Regions from separate parts of the Homo sapiens genome. Here all the other regions are linked to region 2. The links come from fine-mapping of genetic effects on gene expression. A gene starts in region 2. Each other region holds a variant in brackets. All regions are shown on one strand. Distances are from middle to middle.

Region 1 (2,500 bases), 59 kb before region 2:
TAAGTTCAAGAGACCTAAGAGAGTAGATTTTAAATGCTCTCACCATAAAAATGATAACTGTGAGGTTTTGTATATTTTAATTAGTTAGATTTAGCTATTTCACAATGTATACATATTTCAAAACAATGTTGTACATGACAAATACAGTTTGTCATGATAAATACATAGTTTATCATCTGTTAATTAAAAAGAAAATTTGTAGTGTGGCTGTGAACTTACTTTTTCCTTTTCCTTCAAAACAAAATCCAGTGGAGATCTCCGACTCGGCTCCCCCAGCGCCGCTGGTAAAAGAAGTCACCAAGAGGTTTTCCACCCCGGATGCTGCCCCCGTGTCAACAGAACCAGCCTGGCTGGCTTTGGCCAAAAGGAAAGCAAAGGCTTGGAGCGACTGTCCACAGATTATTAAGTAAAGAGTGACTCTCACCCATCCCTACTGCCAGTTATTGGCTCCTCTCTTGCCCTTTTTATTTATTTATTTTTTATATGGGGTAAAGAAATCAAGCTAGGGAAAAGAAGCATGTTTTATAGGCTCCAAAATAATGTTTAGAAACTGAACTGGTGGTGTTCATTGTAAAGAGTGGATTTGCACAACCCTAGGTCCTGGTGCCTCGAGCTCCTCCTAGTTCTCAAGAGAAAATTCCGTCCACAGGACCACATGAAGCAAAATCTCTAAGCTAAGAACTCGTGAGAGCCTGCCATGCCCATTTCATGGCCTTGCACACACACCCACCCACACACCATTCAGAACATGTACTTTTGCCAACCTTTGGTAATGGTTTTTTGATTCTATGCACTAATTTTCTTTGTCCAAAACATTTACTCTACCATATGTCTGGGAATGTTTATCCTTTCTACAGTAATGGTGAAAGGATCATATCTAGCTAAAAGCAAGAACACCCATTCTCCTGAATGCAGTGAGTAATTGGGAATCACAAGGAACATTCTGGCACCCAACTGTGCCCAT[C/G]TTAGTTTTCATGAGTTTTCCCCACTCTGAAGCTGTAACCCAGAAGGCACATCCATTCACATTTTTACCGCACTGTGGATTCATAGTGTGGGGCCCTGTTATTCCAATACCCTCCTTAAGGACATGTGAAGCATTTGGCCCAGTTGGCTCCCAGGGAACATTTTAATTTAATGTAGTGAAGAAAGACAATTCTAGATCAGAGCTACAAGTTCACTTTCTGTCTCTGAGAATCTCCATCTAGGGCAGTAGTTCTTATGATGTGTAGGCTCCCTCCTAGGGCCTACTCAATCAGAGCCTGTGGGGACTGGGCCAGGAATATGTATTCTGGCAAAAACTCTTCAGGTCAGTTCTGATAGATCCCAAAGGTTAAGAACTGTGAGAAACACTGATCCTAATGCAATCTAATTTTTCAGACTTCGAAGGGGAGGCTCATTCACTCAAAAAGCAACAGTGAGACAGGAAAAATAATAAAACAACCCCCCAAGCCAGCCATTTATTACAAGAAGCAACAGGTTATTGACATTACATGTTTGAAAATTCCCTTTGGTCTTTAGGGAAAATAAACAGGAAGCCAAGATTTGGAGCCTTTGTAATAAGGACTTCCTGCAGAAAGTCTTTTCTTTACTATAATTGAGTAATTCATATTTAGAGTCACATGTCCAGTAGCATTTCTAATTTTGAGCATTCACCTTGCTACCTTTAAAAAACATCTGAGTTTTAAGTGGCCTTTTTATCATCATACACATGTGCATACAAAGAAGGGACTTGGCAGTTTAAAAGCCACATATATTCACTTTTATTGCCCTAAATTTACATGAAACAGACATACTGGCAAACTCACATATTGCTGGTGCTAACCTTATATTTCATAGTGTTGGCATATTCCCCTTTTCTTAGATTCTTACTCCGAAATATAGGTACACATCCTTTGCTCTGTGCAGAGGGAATTACATCCTTTTTCCTCTCCTACAAAAACATGCTTTATTAAGTATCCATCATTACTTTCCTTTATGCTCGCTCAATATGCAATGTGCTGTTATTCTACCATGTACCTTAAATAAAGGATGATGGCAAAGTTATTTACCATGTAGAAACCATTTTCTTTCTAGAAACAATAGCTCAGCCTCACTGTAGCAGCTGGCATGTGTGGTCAAGTGGATAGTTGTACTCTTGCAAGTTGGATTTAATATCATATATACTGGACCTTCAGACTGTTAAAAATCAATGTAACCTTTTTTTATTGCTATGGCAAGCAATTAGTATTTCACTGCACGTCTTCCATACTAATGTTCATTTCTAAATCTTATATGTAGGCATTTGTTAGTTCCAATGATTTCCTCACTAATATAACACTTTTTAATGGGAATCTTTCCACCTACAGCCCTGGAATGATAATGCTACAGTAATTCTTCTGAATTGACTTTTTCTTTCATCCTGTCAGCTTTGGACAATATCCCAATTATGGCAGGGAACAGGTGGGGAACTAAGATCAGTTACAAAAAGTTGTAGATGTGTCAACTTTGTATTGGCTGGGAT
Region 2 (2,852 bases):
CTATAAATATTAGCTCTTTTTAATGCACAAGATACAATTTTAAGCTTTCCTCAGACATACAATGATCATTATGTAAATATAAGGGAGGCTTTCTGCAGCAGGCGCTTAAATTATGAGGAATGAGTTCATTTCGCAACATACAGGTAGCGCAGAAGGGTACCTACACATCTATACGATAATTAAGATGTTTCTTTCCATTTTCCCAATGGTTGCTACAGACATTTAAGGTAAAATCCATTCTTCTTGTCTCAGGTTTTCATTTTCATTCATTGAATCACAAATAACATTCTCTGCAGTAGAGAATACTAAACTTATTAATGCCCAAATGTTTGAGACCTTAAAAAGGAAAAAAAGGCCGGGCGCGGTGGCTCACGCCTGTAATCCCAGCACTTTGGGAGGCCGAGGCGGGTGGATCATGAGGTCAGGAGATCGAGACCATCCTGGCTAACAAGGTGAAACCCCGTCTCTACTAAAAATACAAAAAATTAGCCGGGCGCGGTGGCGGGCGCCTGTAGTCCCAGCTACTCGGGAGGCTGAGGCAGGAGAATGGCGTCAACCCGGGAAGCGGAGCTTGCAGTGAGCCGAGATTGCGCCACTGCAGTCCGCAGTCCGGCCTGGGCGACAGAGCGAGACTCCGTCTCAAAAAAAAAAAAAAAAAAAAAAAGGAAAAAAAAAAGCAAACTCTGGTAAGCAGATTTTACATGTAAAAGGAATAAATTTACTTGCTACAACTGTAGAAGCTGCTATTTAGTCAACAAAGATCTTAAGAGTGTCAGCAAATTCAATTGCTATGGGGCCTCTCTCTAGGCCACTGGCTGTTTTAAAAATGGATAAATAATCTAGAAACTTTATTTTCCCAATTCCCCGGCTTCTAAATTTACGGTATGCAACGAGTAACAATGCAATTTACAGCTTCCTAAACATTTCTTCATTGCTCTTCGAAACCACTCTAGGGGGTAGCTGAGCGCGGAGCACACTTATTTCCATTTGAATGGAGGGGCGGAGGCTAGTGACGCAGGAGTGTACACACAGGTCAGGGTTAGTCTGCACCACACCAGCACGCCAGACCCCGATGTATCAAATCCGAGGTCAGGCAGTGGTCCTGAAGCTGAGCAAATGTATGTGGAAGCAGGCTCAGGCCTAGCGGCACTTCGCCTCCTTCACACAGACCCCCGCCGGACACCGCGCCCTGCCGCGACTCACTTAGCAAGTCTCGCGGATTAGGTTTGATCGCATTCGGCCCTTTCCCGGATAGCTCGTCGCGGATACTTCTCACAGCGAAGCAGCAGCTCCCAGAAGCCGTAAAGCTATCCCAGAGCGAGGCACCATACGTAAATCTTCCGCGTCGCTACGTGACGTCAGTGCGAGCGACCCCGGGCCGGCTGCGTGGAGCTGGCGCTGCCTCTCCTGAAGCCGAGGCGCTAACTTGAGTGAAGAGGTCTATAGGCTTTTTCACTTTTGGTTATCTGCTCAGGCGCTCCTTGGGGTCGCGCATGGTCTCGGACAGGGTTTGCAAGGACTTCGGAGCTAACCAGTTTGGAGCCATAACCCTTTCGTACTTGCCAAAAAACTCTGGGCAAGACTCTTGAATTTTGAGCCGCAGTATTCTCGTTCATAAGGTGAGAATAAAAACATCACCTAGGGTTGATGTGAAGAGAGATGAAATCATTGTGAAATAGGAGAGTTATTGCTTTCAACCAATGACATTTTCTGGAAACGTGCTGGAGATATGGCTGCAGCAGTGACGCCTGCAAACGACGTTCCTGTCATCATGATGCTGACATTTTAATTGGGAAGCAGATTGAAACGATAACTAAGGAATTTGACAGGAGCATTTAGTAGGACCTGTAAAGAAATTAAAGCAGGTCCGAGGTGGAGTTTTGTAAACTATATGCCTGAATAGAACTTTCTGTTTCCAAGGGAATTGTTACAGTTGGAGACATGTCAATTATTACAATAAGCGTCAAGGGCAATAACAGAGGTGTTTTAAAGCTACTGTCTGGTGGCAGAATAATCGGGATTTTTTTGTTTGGGGGGTTTTAGCCGGGGGAGGGACTGCGAAGACAGCTCTGCATCAAAACAGTACGTGAGAAAAAAGCATAGGACGCTCTCGCAGCCGTAGTTGTTGGTGACAAGAAACTGTGCTTCTAATCTAAGCAAAAAATATCTCCACATGCCAACTATACTTTTCCAAGATGTACCATGGACTACTCAAACTAACACAGCCTTATTTATGTATTTAGGTTGGAAGTGGGCAAAAGTGTATCTTGTCTATGTTTCTATGTTTCTACGTTGGGATGACACCATCATCCACCCAGCCAGACAGTTATCAACCTTCCCACTTTCTTAACCTCTTACATCCGATTAGACCCTATGTCCTCTAGTTCTCAGTCTTGAGACCAGCACCCAGCTGGCTACATCAGAATTGCCGGTGGTGATGTTTTAGAAGATTCCAAATTCCTGGACTCCATCCCCGGAGGTTCATCCCCTAGTTTTCTAGTGAGGGGCCTAGAACCTGCGTTTTTTAAGTGTCATGTTCATCGCCATTACTGCTACTTTAGTTCAGGTCTTCTTGGTCAGCTTTTTCCTAAAACGTTTTCAGTTTTGTTTGCCTCTGATTGACTCTGAATTGCTGCCAAAATGATGTTTTATTATTCCAGTATCATCATCCAACTCTCTGATATTAATGATACCTTTTTTAAAGTTTTTCTTCCCTTGCAGTATCTATTTCCCTCAAGTTTCCTTTTTTTTTCTTCTGTTGATTTTGTGCTCTATCTTTCACATTAGAGGCTTTCCTAGGATGTCTGGTGGTCCTTATCTGCTCATATGTAAGTGGGGGTATATTTAAAAGT
Region 3 (2,852 bases), 40 kb before region 2:
AATTCCAAAAGACAATACAAAAGAAAATCTTTTTGACCTTGGGTTAGGCAAAGATTGCTAAGATGACACCAAAAGCATGACCCATTAAAAAAATTAAATTGGACTTCATCAAAATAAAGGACTCCTCTTCAAAAGACACTATGTCACTACGCTAAAAGAATAAAACACAAGCCCCAGACTGAGAGAAAACATGCAAAACATATATCTGATAAATGATTTATATTCAGAATACATAAAACAATTCTTAAAACTCAATTTAAAAAACTTAAAAATGGGAAAAAGATTTCAATAGACACTTCACAAAAGATACACAGAGAGCAAATGAGGTTTTGAAAAGGTGCTCGTCAGACATGGTGGCTCACGTCTGTAATCCCAGCACTTTGGGAGGCTGAGGTGGGCAGATCGCTTGAGCCCAGGAGTTTGAGACCAGCGTGGACAACACACAGAAGCTCTGTCTCTACAAAAATTACAAACATTAGCCAGGTGTGGTGGTGTATCTGTAGTCCCAGCTACTCCAGAAGCTGAGGTGGGAGCATCACCTGAGCCCAGGAGTTCGAGGGTGTAGTAAGCCATGATGACGCCACTGCACTCCAGCCTGGGTGACAGAGCAAGACGCTGTCTTAAAAAAAAAAAAAAAGATGCTCAACATCACTGGTCACTAGGGAAAGGCAAATTAAAACCACAATAAAATTCCACTCATGATTATTTCAACGGCTATAACAAAAAAAAAGTTAAAGCTGACAATACCAAGTACTAGCAAAAATGTGGTGCAACTGGACTTTTCACACATTGATGGTGGAAATGCAAAACACTTTATCACTTTGGGAAACAATTCAGCAGTTTCTTATCATTCAGGTGTATTACTGAAAGTGTTCTGTAGTATAATTTTCAAAATGCCGTTGTTTAAAGGGGAAGAAGGGAAGAATCACATTCAGATTCAAGTAGATTGCTGCTAGGATAGCACAAGTAGGGAAAGCTATTCCTAAGCCTTTAGTTTGAAAAGCTTTGATGAAGATTCCATGAGCGTATAAAATGAAACCTAACATACTTGGGAGAGTAAAAAGAGAGTTGTAGTCAGGGGGAGATATTATACCCAGGACCCCCATATTCCTAATAGAGTAAAAGTCACCTATACCTTAATGAAACTAAGCAGCAGTTAGTAGCTAACCCTTAATGAGCACTTATGAAAAAATGCTCACCAGGCCAGACATGGTGGCTCACGCCTGTAATCTCAGCACTTTGGGAGGCTGAGGTGGGCAGATCGCTTGAGCCC[G/A]GGAGTTTGAGACCAGCCTGGACAACACGCAGAAGCTCTGTCTCTACAAAAATTACAAACATTAGCCAGGTGTGGTGGCACGTCCCTAGCAATGCACCAATTGATTCATAAACAGTTATCTCATTTAATCCTCCCAAAAGCTTGATAAAAGATTCTAGTGTTTTAAAATATGTCCAGGAGGCCGGGTGCAGTGGCTCACACCTGTAATCCCAGCACTTTGGGACACCGAGGCAGGTGGATCACAAGGTCAGGAGTTCAATACCAGCCTGACCAACATGGTGAAACCCCATCTCTACAAAAAATACAAAAATTAGCTGGGTGTGGTGGTATGTGCCTGTAATACCAGCTACTCAGGGGGCTGAGGCAGGAGAATCACTTGAACCCGGGAGGTGGAGGTTGTAGTGAACCAAGATCGCGCCACTGCACTCCAGCCTGGGAAACAGAGCCAGACTCCATCTCAAAAAAAAGAAAAAAAAAAAAAGTACATGAATTCTTTGATGTACTTCCTTTCAAGAGGTGGAGCCTAATTCTCTTCCCCTTGAATGTGGCCTGAACTGAGTTATGCACTTTTTTTTTTTTTGAGACAGAGTCCTGCTCTGCTTGCTCAGACCAGAGTACAGTGGCACAATCACCACTCACAGCAGCCTCAACCTACTGGGCTCTAGTGATCCTCCCATCTCAGCCATCCAAGTAGCTGGGACTACAGGCATGTACTACCATGCCTAGCTAATGTTTGTATTTTTTGTAGTGACAGAGTTTCTGCATGTTACCCAGGCTGGTCTCGAACTCCTGGGCACAAGCGATCTGTCCACCTTGGCCTCTCAAAGTGCTGATATTACAGCTGTGAGCCACCGCGCCTGGCTGAGTTATGCCCTTCTAATTAACAGAAGAAAACAAAAAATGATGGTATGGAACTTGGAACGCTAGGTCATAAAAGGTACTCTGTTCCTCTTTACTTGCTGTCTCCTGGATCACTCTGAGGAATGTTAGCTGCCATGTTGTAAGGGCAGTCAAGCAGCCTAGAGAGAGGCGTATGTGGCAAGAATTGAAGCTTCCTGCCAGAATCAGCAAAGAACTGAGGCTTTCTGCTAATAGTGATGTAAATGAGCTACCTTGGCAGATTTTCCAACCCAAGTCAAGCTTTCAGATGGCTATAGCCACGTGAAAGCCCTGAGCCAGAACTGCCAGCTAAGCTGCTCCTGAATTGCTGACCCATAGAAACTATGAGACAATAAATTTGTGTTGTTCTAGGTTGTTGAGTTTTGGGGTATTTGTGATACAGCAACACATTTTATTATTATTCCCATTTTACCCACAAGGAAAGTGAAATTCTAAGAGGTTCAGTAACTTGCCAAAGGTCACAGAGTTCATAATAGCTATACAGGTAGGTTCAAATCCAGGGACTCTTGACCCCAAGGCCCACAATATTAATCAGCACAGGGTTAACTATAATTTTTGGACAGCAACCAAACCCATCATATTTAGATTTTTAAAAAATTTAACTTGGGCCTATGAAGATTATTGTATGGTAATTCAATTTAACTCCACAAACCTCAAATTCAAAAACTTACCCACCACA

Alleles and levels. Alleles are on the strand shown, and positions count from the first base shown. SD is a standard deviation of normalised expression in the study named. Not every link is listed here.
With allele G in place of A in region 3, the expression in kidney cortex of the gene that starts at base 1,333 in region 2 is higher (moderate effect, 0.62 SD a copy in GTEx).

The links. PIP is the estimated chance that this variant, and not a neighbour inherited with it, causes the effect.
Region 1: its variant is fine-mapped to the expression of AASDH in whole blood (TOPMed, PIP above 0.99).
Region 3: its variant is fine-mapped to the expression of AASDH in kidney cortex (GTEx, PIP 0.91).

The regions. Positions count from the first base shown.
Region 1 is chr4:56,327,395-56,329,894 of GRCh38, forward strand. CRACD (capping protein inhibiting regulator of actin dynamics) reads left to right here. Exons shown (of 11, transcript NM_001393381.1): 11 at 250-2,500. The coding sequence ends at 410. Among named protein-coding and RNA genes, the nearest start is that of AASDH, 59 kb to the right of the region's middle. The variant C/G (reference allele first, on the strand shown) is at 965.
Region 2 is chr4:56,386,159-56,389,010 of GRCh38, forward strand. It overlaps AASDH (aminoadipate-semialdehyde dehydrogenase), which reads right to left and starts at 1,333. Exons shown (of 15, transcript NM_181806.4): 1 at 1,204-1,333. RefSeq lists enhancers at 751-1,258, 1,228-1,597, 1,259-1,765, 1,628-1,677.
Region 3 is chr4:56,346,419-56,349,270 of GRCh38, forward strand. AASDH (aminoadipate-semialdehyde dehydrogenase) reads right to left here. Exons shown (of 15, transcript NM_181806.4): 11 at 2,845-2,852. Among named protein-coding and RNA genes, the nearest start is that of AASDH, 40 kb to the right of the region's middle. The variant G/A (reference allele first, on the strand shown) is at 1,274.